Regions from separate parts of the Homo sapiens genome. Here region 2 is linked to region 1. A link means that fine-mapping ties the variant in region 1 to the expression of a gene that starts in the linked region. Tissue or cell type: whole blood. Region 1 holds a variant in brackets; the other region holds the start of a gene. All regions are shown on one strand. Distances are from middle to middle.

Region 1 (8,102 bases):
ATGAACTCTTTCTCATCATCGCACAGTTCTCTATTTGAAACAGCAAATGATTCTTGGGCCGTGGCGTGGTATTTGGGCTCCTCCTCCGGGGGGAGGGGTGGAAGGAGTGCTCTGCAGGAAGTAGAGCTGCTCCAGCAGCATGCTGGTGATCTCCTTCCCTAGGACTTGGTTACTCAGGAGGGGGCTGACGCTCCCTTTCACCTTCTCTCTCCTTTCATGGGCCATAATTGTTTTAGTCCAAGCCTTGATGTTCTCCCAGCCCTTCTTCAGCTGTTTGAAATCCGGCAGGGACAGCTCGGCTGAGAGTTGCATTCGTGGGTCAGCGCCTGCAGGTACATTGATTGCTTAAGGGCAATAGTTCACACATCACTTTTCTTACATTCCAGCACATATTTGTACTTTTCTACTAAAATCAGCAGGGTACTCTTTTCTAGTTCTGAGAAGTATTTGGCAGGTTTTATAATTTCATTGTTTTGCATTTTCCACTATATTTCCCCTGGCCGCCAGCTATCCTGTAATCCCAGCTACTTGGGAAGTTGAGGTAGGAGGACTGCTTAAGCCCAAGAGGTCAAGGCTACAGTGAGCCATGTTTGCACCACTGCACTCCAGCCTGGATAACAAAAGGAGACACTGCAGTGGCACACCCGCCCCCCCCCCCCCCTTTTTTTTCTTTTTTGAGACAAAGTCTTGCTCTGTCACCTAGGCTAGAGTGCAATGGCGTGATCTTGGCTCACTGCAACCTCCGCCTCCTGGCGATTCTCCTGCCTCAGCCTCCCGAGTAGCTGGGACTACAGGCACCAGCCACCAAGCCTGGCTAATTTTTGTATTTTAGTAGAGATGGGGTTTTACCATGTTGGCCAGGCTGGCCTTGAACTCCTGACCTCAAGTGATCCACCCACCTTGGCCTCGCAAAGTGCTGGGATTACAGGCGTGAGCCATGCCCGGCCTGACTTCTTGTTTGGGGCACAAATCAGACTGTATAAGAATCATGAGAAAAACAATAATATCTTGGGCTTTCACCAAATGTTTTATCCTGGTCAGCAGTATCTTTAGAAGACACAAATTTTCATAGTTTCTTGATTTTAGGATATATTTCATAGTTTAATATTTCTGAAATTGGGAGGCTTTGTACGATGTCTTTAATGTAGTAATTCTTTGCTCTCCCCAAATGCTGTTATTACATTGATTATGTGTCTCATAAATGAACATCCCTACCTCTTGTGGGTCATCCAGGATGGAATTTGTTTTATTGGTCAGTAGAAAAGGCTATGACCTAATTAGTGTATCGAGTAGGTATTCTGTGTAAGTTAATGCATTTATTTTGTTTTTTATTATTTTTGAGATGAAGTCTCACTCTGTTGCCGAGGCTGGAGTGCAGTGGTGCCATCACGGCTCACTGCGACCTCTGCCTACTGGGGTTCAAGCAATTCTTGTTCCTTAGCCTCCTGAGTAGCTGGGATTACAGGTGCGTGCCACCATGCCTGGCTAATTTTTGTATTTTTAGTAGAGAGAGGGTGTCACCATGTTGGCCAGGCTGGTCTCAAACTCCTGACCTCAGGTGATCTGCCCACCTCAACCTCCCAAAGTGCTGGGATTACGGGTGTGAACCACTGTGCCTGGCCAAGTTAACACGTTTAGTCTTTAACACATTTGGTCTTTGGAAGAAACTGAAGCTCAGGAATGGATCAGTAATTTGTTAAAGGTCACACCGCTAGAAAAGAGTGGATCCAGTATGTGAGCCCAGCTCTGTCTAATCATGATGTTCAGTTCTTTCTCCTTCCCAGGAGAGACCTGTACTTCTTCACTTCTGGCTCCTGCTGTTTTTTTAAGCTGAGGATGTCCTCTTCTCTTCCTATTGAAACTCCATTTCTGGGCCAGGCATAGTGGCTCACGTCTGTAATCCCAGTGCTTTGGGAGGCTGAGAAAGGAGGATCTCTTGAGCCCAGGAGCTTGAGACCAGCCTGGGCAAGATGGTGAGACTCTGCCTCTACAAAAATTAAAATAAAAAAAGTTAGCTGGGTATAGTGGTGTTCACCTGTAACCCCAGCTACTCAGGAGGCTGAGGTGGGAGGATTGCTTGAGCCTGGGAGTGTGAGGTTGCAGTGAGCTACGGTCATGCCACTGCACTTCACCCTGGGTGACAAGAGAGACCCTGTCTCTACTGGAAAAAAAAACCACAAAAATCCCAAAACAAAACTTACACCACCTGTTCCCCAAAAACCTATTGGATAAAAAAACTCCATTTATTATTCTTTCAGTTTGGATAACATTTTATGATTATAAAAATGACACCCGTTCTTTAAAAATACAAAAAAGTAAATAATAAAACTTTCCAGTGTTTACATTTTGAGATGTTAATTTTGCTATAAAAATAGAAATTGACCTCAAAGTTGAAAAAAGAAAATTAATGCCTTAAATTAAAATAAAAAAGATATGTGAAGATCATACTGCAAATGTAGTTTTCTTACCTTGAGTTGTTAACTTTCTAGAAGATTATGGGCATTGCCTCATATGATTAAGTACACTGTTAAAAGGGACTTAAAAAAAAAAAGTTGCCTCATAGTGTTCTGTGATTGACACACCAGAATGTAGTTACCTACTTCCCCATGTTTGGCTATTTTAAGTTACACTTCCGTGAATAGGCTTATGCTTACACTTAATTGTTTCTTTAGGATAAATTCCTAGAAGTGGAGTCTGGCTCAAGGGGTGAGGGCCACCTGGTGAGGCTTCTGTTGCATCATCCTGTTTCTCTGCTGCCCTCCAGGGGGGCGATGCCGCTCCACGCTCCTGCCATGCTCCTGCCACAGCCACACTGGGGAGTCCCTCTGCCAATGTTGCCAAACATCTGCCCATATGTTTCCATTTTGTATTTCCTTGCTTATTATTAAGGTGGGAGGTTTGTTATGGTTGCCGGCAGAGGTAACTTTCCTTTGAGATAAACATGTATATTTCCTTGGCCTGTTTAACTGACTTGTTTGTGCAACCCCAGTCATTCTTCAAGACCCAATTCAAAGCTCATCTTTTCCATGAACTCTTTCCCGACACCCGTCTTTTCTCTGAAGCTGGAAGCTTTAATTTTCATATCTGAATTCTCACAGCCTGTGTGTATCTGAAAACCCTTGTCAAAGACACTTTTGCATTGCAACTTGATATCTTTGGCCCCCACTTGAATCTGAGGTCTTTAGGGTAGGAGATGGGTCATTCATTTCTGTGTTGTTTGCAGGGCCTTGGCACCATACTGGGTAACTAGTGGGTACTCGATACTCTTGAATGGATGGATAGATGGACACACACTGTTCTTAACAAACCAACCAACCCATCCCACACCCGTCAGCAAAATGAGTTTAATGCCACCTTATGAAATTGCTCTCTTCCTTTCCGCATCTTTGCCTTTGGAATCAGTGAGGTTTTGCTCCATCTAAAGACCCAGCAGGGGCTGGGCGCAGTCCCAGCACTTTGGGTGGCTGATGTGGGTGGATCGCTGGAGCCCAGGAGTTTGAGACCAGCCTGGGCAACATGGTGAAACCCTGTCTGTACAAAAAATACAAAAATTAGTTGGGTGTAGTTGTGTGTGGCAGTGGTCCCGGGTACTCAGGAGGCTGCGGTGGGAGGATCGTTTGAGCCTGGGAGGTCGAGGCTACACTGAGCCGTGATTACACCACCGCACTCCAGCCTAAGCAACAGAGTGAGACCCTGTCTCAAAAGAAAAAAAAAAGACCCAGCAGGGCAGATGGAGTAACCAGCAAAGCCGACCTTAGTGGTGAGGCTGGGCATGGCGGCCTGAGCAGGGATCGGCTCCAAATAGTACGTCTACCGTGGGCTCCTGGACCTTTCTCCCTTTGCTAGAAGAGAAGCACCAGCACCCTCCCTTTTCCTCTTGTGACATTTTAAAATGTATTATTCCCATTCATAGCCTTATAAAATCAGTACGCAGTAATTAGAGAACATTTGGAAAACACAGAAAAGTAGAAGGAAGAAAATAATTACCTATAGCCTTCCCACTCAGATCAGCCCATTCACAGATGACATTTCTGCTGTGTTTTCTTTCAGTTGTGTTTTCCAGGCAAAGACTTTGTGTGCGAGGTTTTGCTTACGTAGTTCTTGCCATCCATCATGTAGATTTTTTTGTCCTGCCTGTCGCTTAGTAAAATAACACAAAAAACTTCCTATGTTTTTGTAAACCTGCTCAGTGGCTCTGTCATAGTTTAGTAAGTGGTTTTACCATCACCTCCTTAGCTGTGCTTCCATTGTTGGGGCTTTGGGTTGTTTGCACTGTGTCCCTCTTGTAAACAATGT[C/T]GGGATGGACAAGTTTGTGCTGGGCGTTTCCTTGTCCCTTTGGCTGGTTACCTCAGGCAGACTGGCCCATACCAGCCCTTCCCCGCTTCATTCTCCTCCCTTGGGGCCAGTGCCCTATTCGCCTCTCGGTTTGTGTTTCTCAGTCTCCATGTGTAGCAATATGTTGAGAAACAGCTTCCTTTTTCAGGAAGAAAGCTCAAGATGTTGAACCTCGAGGAGGCTGTGCACAAAGGTGCAGAGTCCTGCCTGCTGGGTCATGGCCTTGGCACTGCAGGGCGGCCCCCTTCTGCCTCACAGGCCCAGGGTTACAGAAGGTGCAGGTGACGGGGAGGCCACGCCTTTGAAGGGGCTGCCTGGCAAACCTTTTCCCCTGACAGTAAGCTGAGGGGGTGGCCCTGGTCACATGTTGCAGGTCTCTGGAGGGGGTGTAGTGAATACCTGAGTCCATTTTCTGCCTGGTCCCACACTCGGATCCGTCATGGAAGATCTGGCCCCTGTGTTCTGTGGGCGAGTGCTTGGGGGAGAACCCCTCCTGTGGGGCTGCTGAGATGTGTGCTGTGCTGGAGGTGGCTTCAGCCCTGCTCCTCTGAGCAGCTGCTTGGGGCATGCTGTTGAGCTCCAGAGAGCACTTCAGCATATAGCCAGCAGCGCCCTGAGGAGCTGCAGTGACAAAGGCCACTGTGGCACTCAAGGCTCAGGTTTGGATGGTGGAGTAACATTGCCTAGGTTCACCTCCCACCCTGGACAGTTACTTTATCTCTCTTTCATCTCCACTTGGGGATAGTAATAACACCCACCTCCCCAGATGAAATGAGTTAGCATTTTATACACTTCTCAAAACAGTCCCTGTTTGTTAAATAAAAATAGGGAACCAGCGTTACCAGCTAGACCACTCGCTCACAGCAGGTTGAACCCAGGACTTCTGCCATCCAGTATGGGGGAAAGAGTGCTGGACAGAACCAGGAGACCGTCCTGGCACTGCCTTCTACTTTGTGTGAGTTTGACTAAGTCGTTGTCCCTCTCTGGGCCTCAGTTTCCTCATCAGTTTTTCATCTATTTCTGTGAGATGACCTTAGGCCCTTCTTGTCTTAGAACATCCAAGGATTTTGTAATTTAAAGGCATTTCAGACATCTGAAGATGGGTCTGGTCCTGCTAATAATCCTCACTGGTTGACGTGGTCCTTAGATGGGGCCAATTGCAAAGGTCAGAGGGCAGGAGATGCAGAGCCCTGTGGGGTTTGCCCGGTTTTTCTCAGTGCGGGTGAGCTATCCTCCACCTGGAGGGTTATGGTAGCTGGGTCACCTGGGAACAGGCCGTGGGAGAACTGGCCTCCTTGGGAATGTGTTGTCCTGCGCGGCAGAGCACTTTCAGGTACGGGCTGCTCTGTGAGGCCACCCTGTGCTCCAGCCCGCAGCACTTGAGACTGACTTGCCCTGAGGTTTGTGTGAGCGAAATCGGGTCTTATGCAACAGTGAGTGCGTGCATCTCCGCTTCGAGCTGTTACATCAGAAAGCTAAACACAGAGAGCCCTTGCAACTGGAGAACTAGCAGGAGGCCCTCGCTCTGGTTCTTTGTCAGCGGGTGGGACGGGGTAGGATGTGGCTTACAGGCAGCTGTGGAGGAGAGGACTGTGCTAGGAAAGAGGTTGGAGCTGGTGGACTCTCTCCCAGGCGCTGCTTTTCCAACAGGCTTTCTGGAAGGTTCTGGCCTCCTTCTGATCAGGTGGCAGAGCATCCCTGGGGCTCCTCACCAGTATTCGTGTGCTCTGGGTCAGTGATGTCTCCATCTGCATCACTGCTGGTGGAGCACAGTGGGAAAGGTCAGCCTTCAAACTGTGGAAGGTCAGACCCAGCGCCTCAAGCCTGGAGGGGCAGCGTGGGGCATCAGCCTCTTATGAGTTTAAGTTGGCTCTGACACATACCAGCTGGGTGACGTTGGGTTGGCTTCCTGACCCTCTGAGTCCTTTTTTATAAATGAGAACATTTGTACCAAGATGCCCAGCATTGGCCTGATGGACAGTAGGCACCCCAAAAGTCTCAGTCATTTAAGGAAGTAATGTAGCCCATGGTTAAGAGCATGGGCTGAGCAGCTGAACTTCCTGGGTTCAGTTTCTTGCTCTGCCACTTACTAGCCGCATGACATGGGACTGTTCCTCATCCTCAGTTTACGCCTCTGTACAATGGGGATAGTTGTGATAGGGCGTCTCTCACAGGTTTGTTGCAAGGATTAAGTGAGTTAATTCAGTTGTCCCTTGGTATCCATGGGGGAGTGGTCCCAGGAACCCCTGAGGATACCAAAATCCACAGATTCTCAAGCCCCCTTAGTACAGATGCAGATGCAACCATTCTTTTTTTTTTTTTTAAGATGGAGTATCACTCTGTCACCAGGCTGGAGTGCAGTGGCATAATCTTGGCTCACTGCAACCTCTGCCTCCCGGGTTCATGCAATTCTCCTGCCTCAGCCTCCCGAGTAGCTGGGACTACAGATGCACACCACCATGCCCAGCTAATTGTTGTATTTTTAGTAGAGACAGGGTTTCACCATGTTGGCCAGAATGGTCTCGATCTCTTGACCTTGTGGTCTGCCCGCCTCGGCCTCCCAAAGTGTTGGGATTACAGGTGTGAGCCCCCGCACCCAGCCGCAACCATTCATTTTTTTAAAAAGATTTCTGATCTGCCGTTGAATCTATGGATGCAGAACCCACAGATCCTAAGGGCTGTCTGTACGCATAAAGCACTTAAAGCAGTGTCTAGCGCATAATAGTCACCCTTGTTGGAGTTAGCTGTCATTGTCTAATTTCTTCAATAAGGGTGGTCAGTTGATTTCTTGAGAGCTTGGCAGCATACCGCCTCTCTTTATTTTGAGATGCATCCCCACCCTGTTCAGCTAGAGCTTGTCCAAGGTGACAGGTGCGTGTGCGCACGTGTGTGTGTGTCTTTTTCAGCCATGTCACCACTATCCAGGTCTGGAGAGTAGCTCCCCTTGCAGCCTGGGGGCCAGGCCTCTCCTCGGCTTGCTTCTTCAGGCTGTGTGCATCTTGTTACCCATCCTGGTTTGCCTCCCTCTTCTGCACAGACTGTGCTCAGAGGTTCGTGTTGCACAGTTTGGCTCGGGTGTGCCCAGCTCTTGACCTGAGAATAAAGTAAGGGCCAGGAAAGCCATCCTTTCAGTGTGAGTGTGTTCCAGCCACGCCTGGCCTTGTCTACGTTTGCCCATTTTCAAGGAATACACCAGGGTAGCTTGGGACATGCCATGTAGATGGAGTCATCCAGGAATGTGTTTAAGAATCTTAAAGCAATAAACAAGTCAGACTAACTGCTTTCAAAGAGTACAAGAGACTGGAATTTTCATGATAGAGATGGCTGACAATGAGTGTTAATCTATTATAGCAGGCCTGATGTCTTCAGCAATAGACATCCCCCTCTTCCCCCATTTTGCAGATAAGGAAACTGAGGCAGAGGGTGGTTAAGTAATCTGAGTTAAAGCAGCTAGTCAGTGGCCGAGCTGGGATTTGAACCCGGGTCTGTTGGCCTCTAGGCCCCAGCACCTGACTATCCATCACTATACTGCCCCTGGCTGGCATTCCTGGGATTATACAGCAGCGGCATCCTGTTGCCTGAGCCCTTTCTCATCCCCCGCTAATGATAGTGCTAGTAATGTGAGTCCAGTTACAGCTGTGTTGCCTGAGGTGCACAGGGCCTAGGGGGATAACTGCGTTGTCTTTAGCCATTGCTTGTTAGAGAAGGTGGTCTTGCCTTCTTTCTCCCTCCCAGAGCTGATGTCACCTAAACCCTGCTGCAATATT
Region 2 (8,102 bases), 75 kb before region 1:
CCTGAGGGATCTTTAAAACTCTCCACCTGAAAAGAACGTGACTTTCTTAGAGTACCGTGTTTCTAAAAATTTAATCTATTTTTGGGTCATGTGGGAATTTTGCTAAGATGCAGTTTGTGATTCAGTTATCTGGGGTTGGGCTCAAGACTGCGTTTCTAATAAGCTCCCAGGCCATACAGTTGCTGCTGCTCCTGGACCGCATTAGGAGTAACAAAGGCTTGGAGAAAAACCCAAACTTCCTTCCCATGTCCCACTTTATCTGGCCCCTGCATAGCTCTCCCACATCATCTCCAGCCCTTGCTCCTCTCCCTCATCTTGCTATGGCTTCTCTGGCCTTCACTTTGTTCCTGGAGTATGCCAAGCTGCTCCTACCTCAGGGCCTTTGCACATGATGTTCCCACTGCCTGGAGTGCTCCTTTCCTGGAACATTCCACATGGCTTGCTTTTCCTTATTTACATCTTAGTTCAATGGTCAGATAATAATTCTCTGTCCACTTCACCTAGTGAAGTACCTTAGCCACCAGAGACTCTCGGCTATTTGCTTTCTTCTTCTTCTGCGTAGCACTTATGATTCTCAGTTTATTTTGGTAATATATTTGTTGACATTCATTTCCTGTCCTTCCCTTCATGTATGTTCCACAGGGATAAGGACTCGGCTTCCTTCGCTTTGAGCCTACCCCAGAGCCTGGCGCATGCTAAGTGTCCTCTTCATGTTTCTTGGGCCTGTGCATGAAAATGCTCCCACCGCTGCTGTTGGTGTTTGGATGCAGACAAGCTCGGAAAAGCAATGAAGGGACCCGAGACAGAGGAGAGGAAGGAGAGAGTAAGCAAACTTTCTCTACTGAGGTGCCTCAGAAAAAGCCTCAAGAACCTGGAGATGATGCTGAAACCCTGAATCAACACATAATAGATCAATTCATCTAACTAGAAGAGATTCATTCTGGAAGGTGAGGAAGAAAGTAATGCATAGTTCAATGAGTTAAGCATTTGGAACAGTTTCAGTAGACATACAGTAAATATTTATCAAATAAATAAATATGCCGAACCCTTATTTTATGACCATTACTTTGTGTTATATAATCTGTTCATCCTCATAAAACATTATCACCATCTTGCAAATAAGAAGCTGTGCTACCAGATTAGGAGATTTGCCCGAGGTCATATAAGACTCGTCAAAGGTCATACAGCGATTCAGAGACAGAGCTGACTACCCTACTCTCTAAAACAGCTCTATTCGAAGTTGTAAAGGCCATATTCCCTGTCCCCTTCCCTGCAGTGCCATACCACCTGTTACCACTGACACACTGTGCATTTATCTGCTTGTCTGTTTCCTCTCACCACAGCATAAATTCCCTAAGGGTAAGAATCTTCATTTTGTTCACTACCCTTTTCCAGAGCCCAGAACAGGGCCTGCCATGTAAGTGGCACTTCATGAATGCTTACTGAATGTTAAAAGGATGAATGAAGGGATTATTTAAAAATCCTTATTTCGGCCAGGTGCCATGGCTCATGCCTGTAATCCTAGCACTTTTGGGAGAGTGAGGCCAAGAACAGGAGTTTGAGACCAGTCTACATGACACAGCAAGACCCTGTCCCTACAAAAAATTTAAAAATTAGTCAGATGCGGTGGCAGGCACCTGTAGTCCCAGCTACTCAGGAGGCTGAGGCAGGAGGATGGCTTGAGCCCAGGACTTTTGAGGCTGCAGTGAGCTTTCTCGCACCACTGCACTCCAACCTGGGCAACAGAGCAAATCCCTGTCTCTTAAAAACAAAAAACAAAAACAAAAAAGTTTCTCCACCTCTGAGGGGCAGTTCTGTAAACTTGTGGCTGACAGATGACTCAAATCCAGGCAAGAAGGCTGGAGGCCATCTGTGAGGAAGGAAAACTGTGGCCTGCTGAATGCTCTGGATAATCAGAGGGAAGACTGTATCCACAGAGGACAGACTCGCTGCATGGAACCTGGCGGGAGAGTAACCAGGGAGCTGGCATTTGTCCAGTCTCAGGCTCTGACATCACCCCTGTGGTGACATGGGTGGGCATGAATGCCACAAGCTGGCAGTGGCTCTTCTCAGGATGTGGCTTCCCACATAAAGTGGCCCTAGAGGGAGAATGTGATGACCAGGTCCCTGTGGCAATAACAAGTTTGATGTAAGTGCATAAATAGGCACTTACCAGAACATTTCTTGTGAGCCAGGCATGGTAGTTCACGCCTATAATCCCAGCACTTCAGGAGGCTGAAGGGGAAGGATTGCTTGAGCCCGAGAGTTTGAGACCAGCAGCCTGGGCAACGTAGAGAGACTCCATTTCTAAAAAAAAGGAAAAAAAAAAAAAAGTTAACGTTAGCCGGGCATGGTGGCACACTCCTATAGTCCCAGCTACTTGGGAAGCTGGGGTGGGAGGATCGCCTGAGTCTGGGAGGTCGAGGCTGCACTGAGCCATGATCATGCTACTGTACTCCAGCCTGAGTGACAGAGCAAGACCCTGTTTCAAAAAAAAAAAAATCTTTTGTGAATTGTGTTAGAATGAGTGAGTCGTTCAAGCCTGGCAGCTCTGGCTGCTGGACAGAGGCTCTGAACCAGCCAGGTTGGGTTGTGGATAGTCCCTTGAGATAGTTCTCTGCCCACTGACCTTCCTCTGTGCCTAGGCTTCTCAAAGTATAGACTTGCGACTGGGCTCAGACTAACCACATCAGTACCACCTGAGAACCTGATAGAAATGCAGATTCTCCTGCCCTGTCCTCTGATCTACAAAATTAGAAACTATAGAGGTGAGCTCCATGGTTCTGGGAATTAACAAGCCCTCCAAGTGATTCTGATGCATGTTCAAGTTTGAGAACCACAACTAGTTTCCCTTTCATAATAGTTACTACTTTGCAAGGAGTCGGATGGGGTTAAGGTAACAGGTTGAGAAATTCATAATATCGTGCAGGCGGTCTTTTTATAAGTTGAGTGAGGACTGGATCAATGACTCTCAATGGGAAAGGCCAGGGGTTAGGGAGGAACCTCCTTGCATTTGGAAAATCTCGAGGAGGGGTTAATTTGCAAAAACAAGTTTTAAAGTTATAGTTTTGCTTCCTAGACCTGATTTTTAAAAATTTATTATTTTTTTTAGAGACAGGGTCTTGTCACATTGCCCAGGCTGGTCTCGAACTCCTGGCTTTAAGTGATCCTTCCCCCTTGGCCTCTCAAAAGTGCTGGCATTACAGGCATGAGCCACGGTGCCCAGCCCTTAATTTATTTCGAAGGCTGGTGTAATATAAACATTAAAGGAAGGTGTAATACAAACTGCCATCCATTATTGATTGTTTTAGTGTCTACAAGGTTTGGATCCCACCTCCTGTCCAATTCTCATCCTCAAACACAAAAACAAAACCAAAAAAACAACTGTCTATCTACACACACACACACACCCTCGGCTGGCCTGAGAGGTAAAAGAAACATCCCATAGGACCTGCTGAAAGAGCTCCTGAGGCACGCTGGAGCCTTTCTTGTGTGCCATGCACTGTATCTGGCACTATAAAGAGGGTACAATAGCTAGTGGCTTCTGCAATCAAGCAGCTTACAAGAGAAAATTGAGAGGGGAGACATTTTTTCTGGTTGACAGATGTCGAAAGCATGAAGGTGTGGGAGCTTTGATCAGAGACTTGGTTTTTCAGTTTTGCCAGATAATAGAACGCATGGGGTGAACTAATGGGAGAGGAGGGTGAACAGATGGGCAAGGCTTGATTGCTGGGTTAGGAGGCACAGAAATGCACAGAGGACAAAGGACTACCAGTCCTTGGCAGTACTGTACTGCTCCATGGCCACTACCTGGGTCCAGGGCCACATTCAGATCTGAGGTTAGATAGTAAGAATTGCTAACATTTATCCAGCGACCACATGTGCCAGTAATCAATCTAGGTGCTGTACATGTATTAACTGATTCTTCATAGGAACCCTATTAAAGAGTTATTTGATGAGGAGAGTCGGGCATTCACTGGAAATCGAACGTGCCCAAAGTCTCACCCTAGACCGTGGTGGAGTCAGAATTTGAATCCTGGCCACTTGCTCCGAAGCCACCGACAATTCAGTGTGCTGTCCCCCGTGTCTGGGCTGGCTTGGTGGGCTGGGAATGGCGGGGGAATGGGACACTTATTTTGGCAGGTAAATGTGGTTCAGAAGAAAGCTCTTCGTCTTTCTCCAAGCCTGAGCAATCGTTTTGGCGCAGGCAGTCCAGAGTAGAGCGCTTTGTGAGCCAGCTACAGAAGTGCTGTAAGCCCCTTCCCACTAGATGGCAGCCCCTAAACCCACATACAAATCCTGGAACCTCCCTGGTCCCCATCTTCCAGGGCTGGGCTGCAGCTGAGGAACTGCGGGACGCACACCCGCCGGGCGTCCAGGGGGCGCCGCCCCATCCGGGGGTCGCGGGAAGCTCCTAGGCCGGGTGGGGGACGGAGGCGGACGGGGAGACGCTGCTCCCCCGACTCTCGGCGCCTGGGGGAGGAGCTGGCGCGGAGCAGCTCCACCCGGGGCTCCCGGTTGGGGCCGGCCCTCACCGCCTGCCTCGCCGCGGCCGCCGGGAGGGGAGGGGAGAGGAGGGCAGGGAGGGCGGCGCGGGCGCGGTCCGGGGCCCCGAGGGCGGAGGCCGGCGGCAGGTGCGCGGCGTGGACTACAAGTCCCAGCATGCCCGGCCGCCCTGACCCAGCCCCCGCCGCCGCTTAAAGGCTCCGGGAGCCGCAGCCGTCGGGTCGCCGCGGCTTTCGCTTTGCTGCCGCGGCTGGGAGGGTGGAAGCGGCAGACTCAGCGGCCGGCTCTACCGGCGTCCCGGCTCGGGCAGCGCCGAGGGGCGCTCCTGGTCCAGCTCTCCTGGCTCGGGGGTTCCTTGCCGAGGCGCCCGCGCCCCGGGCTCCCAGCCTCGGCCGCCGCGGCCCCGATGCCGAGGCATGGATAGAGCAGCGCTGCGCGCGGCGGCGATGGGAGAGAAGAAGGAGGGCGGTGGCGGGGGGGATGCGGCGGCCGCGGAGGGAGGCGCAGGGGCCGCGGCCAGCCGGGCGCTGCAGCAGTGCGGGCAGCTCCAGAAGCTCATCGACATCTCCATCGGCAGCCTGCGCGGGCTGCGCACCAAGTGCGCTGTGTCCAACGACCTCACCCAGCAGGAGATACGGACCCTGGAGGTAAGTGGGTCGGGGACCAGGCTGGGCTCGAGGAGCGGGCCCGGACACCTCCCTCCGGGCCCCAGTACTCCTGGCCGAGTTGCATCCTTGAGCCCGCGTCGCCCCCCTTGGAGGCTTCCCCTCCCTCCTGCACTCGCTGATGCGGCAGCCGGAGGACCCGGGACCAGCCCTCATCTTGGGCAGGATTTGTGGGGCGGGTGCGTCGTGGGAACTGGGATGGAGGCTCGAGGGGCCCGTGCGGGGTGGGCTGCGCGCGGACATCCCCTTTCCCCCCTTCTCCGCCCCCACCCCATTTCCAGTTTGCGGGGCCGCAGGACTCGTTGTCCCACCGAGTCACAAGCTGGACTTTTCCCCGTGTGACTGAGCCGAGCACCCGTGGGCCAGGGTGACGGAGGAGGTTCCCCTGAAGCGTGATCGCAGGCCTGCCGTCCCCTGTTCCCCTCACGCCCCAGACGCCGTCCTGTCCCTTCCTTTCCTCTCCTCTCAGGTCTTGTCTGCCGCCTTTTCAAAAAGTGTTGCTGAAACTGCATTTTTGTTATTCAGGCGTTTGGTGCTTTCCTTTCACGTTGCCACGGAGGCTCGCTGCTTAAAATGTATTAATAATTACCCGCTGACTCCCCCTGCTTCCCCCCAAAGATTGGATTTAGGCTTAGGAAGGATTATGCTGGGAAGCAAGCCTTTGGTGGGAAGATGAAACTGTTTAAAGGGTTCTGATGGAGACAGTCTGGAGTGTAAAGAAGAAATAAGATATGCGGGCCTTCCTCTCTCAAATTATAGCTGGGGAAGTATCTGAAGGATTTGGAAAAACCAGCCCGAGGGTTGTTGGGGCACCCTGTCCATACACAAATGAGGGCAACTAGTGGATTCTGAATGTGATTTTGGCCAGGGACGGGGCGGTGAAACGTCAGACCAGTTAATAGCTGCCCCGTCTTGAAGAAGGAACCTCTCACCATCTTGCCCTGCCACATCTGGCCTCCTGCAGGTCTGGGGATGTTTTGTTTTATTAGATCCTCAATTTCTCCTCCCCCAAACCCTCCCCCCGCCCCTTATTGCTAATTGCCTCTGCCAGCTGTCATAAGGCCCTCTGTGATCGCGGTAATTATTACAAGACCAATCCTTCCTCCAGGCATGCCACAAAGCCGAATCCTTGTTTGATTCCAAATGCTCGGGGGTGACTCTCCCTCAGTTTTATTTTCTTAAAAGCTATAAAACCACAGGACATTGGAAGAATACAGTCAGTGCTGGGTATTATTATTTTTTATTACAGTTGGCTAAAGCTGTACTGACCAAGGCTTTGCTTAAAAAACAAACAAAACCCCCTACAACTGGCCTTTCTGCATGCATGCTGCAGTTTTCCAAGTATTGAGAGAAACTGATTTTTTGAACACAGCTGAGTGTGTTTGCTCAGCAAAGTTCAGTTTTTAAGCTGACAACAATAGGGGGCCTGTGAGGCTCAGTTCCGGGAGGAGGGGTCGCTGTCTGGCAGAGTGTGCGTGGTTGGACTTCGGTGTTGCTGGGCTTGGAGAATGCTCTCTGTGTTGGCCTCTGTGGGATTGTCCCCACGTTGCTCTGAAGTGCTCCTGGCTTCCAGAGTGTGTATATAGGAGAACCACTTGCTGTGCATTCTCTGGAATGGCCTTTTGTCCTACCCTAACTTCCGGAGTCCCTCATTTTGATGGCAGTGTGGCGTTCATGACACCCCAGAGCATCCAGCTATTTAAGTGTTGGAGCTGGTTTATTCAGTGGCTTCCCTCCTGAGTGTTTGTTTAGACGATCATCCCTGGCAGCAGAGAACCCATCCAAAGGCCCACAGGGGATCTGCAGCTCCCTGTTCTTCCCACCGTGATGTGGATTCGGGTTCACTCCACTTCCTGAAAAGGCAGGGCCTGGGTTGTTTTGGGGGATGGGAATTTAGACCCCTGGAGTGAGTTCCATGGGGCTGCCACCAGCTAGTTTAGATGAGTCACTTCATCCCGGAGGCCTCAGCCTCCTCACCTGCAAAACAAGGAGGCTGGAGTGGATCTCTGAGGGCTCTGGAAGCTCGAAATTCTCTAGGTTAGAGAAGGAGACTTGGTTGGGTGAAATCAAATGTTTGTGATTGTTTTTATACTACCCTGGTTTAAGAATAACCCTCTTTAAGAATGGTTCTAAAATCCAGATTTACTGAACCCATAACATAGGGGTTAAGTTTATTAGAAGAATCTTTGCCATAGGAGCAGCGTGGTGAATAGGAAGCCCCATGGCTTTCATACTGGGCCTGGGTTCTGTCTGTGTGACCTTAGGCAAGTCCCATGACTTCTGAATCTCAAGCTCTCCTGTCTGTAAAATAGGAACGAGACTGCTCACACCTGCAGCATTTTGTCTGTCAGTCCGTGCTGATACTACGAAAAGAGTCTGCCTGGCAGCTGCCCCTAGTGAGGGTCCAGTAGCATTTATGGCACAGGCCACCACTAGGGAAACTTAACCCCTACTGGACCCTTGCTAGGGAAACTTAACCCCCTACTTTATGGGTTCAGTAAATCTGGATTTTAGGGAAAGGTACTTCTGCAGCTGCCTCTCATTTCATACAGGTGGGTGACACAAGCCAGGAAACAATCTCAGCAAGCTGGGTGGGACCGTCCACCGCCAGCAGCATGTGTTGGGGCCAGGCAGGCAAGTGGCAGTGTCCACTCCAGCGTTCTTTCCTGTTCTGTGGGCTCCCCACACACCAGGCCGTGGCCCCAGAGACTGTGCTTGCAACACTGGATTCCTGGCTTTTGAAGAAGGATCTGACCTGGAGGGCTTGGCCTGTGCAACTGCATCGGACTTATCTAGAATCTGAGGAGCCCCAGCTCACTCTGGCCTTCATTAAATAAACACTCAGTGGGAGAAGCAGCACGTGAAATGTCCGTGGAGGTCCCTGACCAGGGATGGGCTGCTGCTGCCTGAAATTGGGTTGTGATGGGGTGT

The links. PIP is the estimated chance that this variant, and not a neighbour inherited with it, causes the effect.
Region 2: KSR1 starts here. The variant in region 1 is fine-mapped to the expression of KSR1 in whole blood (INTERVAL, PIP above 0.99).

The regions. Positions count from the first base shown.
Region 1 is chr17:27,526,745-27,534,846 of GRCh38, forward strand. All of the region lies in intron 1 of KSR1 (kinase suppressor of ras 1), which reads left to right. It also overlaps the pseudogene MSANTD3P1. Among named protein-coding and RNA genes, the nearest start is that of KSR1, 74 kb to the left of the region's middle. RefSeq lists a silencer at 6,147-6,332. The variant C/T (reference allele first, on the strand shown) is at 4,297.
Region 2 is chr17:27,451,722-27,459,823 of GRCh38, forward strand. It overlaps KSR1 (kinase suppressor of ras 1), which reads left to right and starts at 4,727. Exons shown (of 21, transcript NM_001394583.1): 1 at 4,727-5,153. The coding sequence starts at 4,923. RefSeq lists silencers at 4,257-5,016, 5,537-5,586 and an enhancer at 4,392-4,893.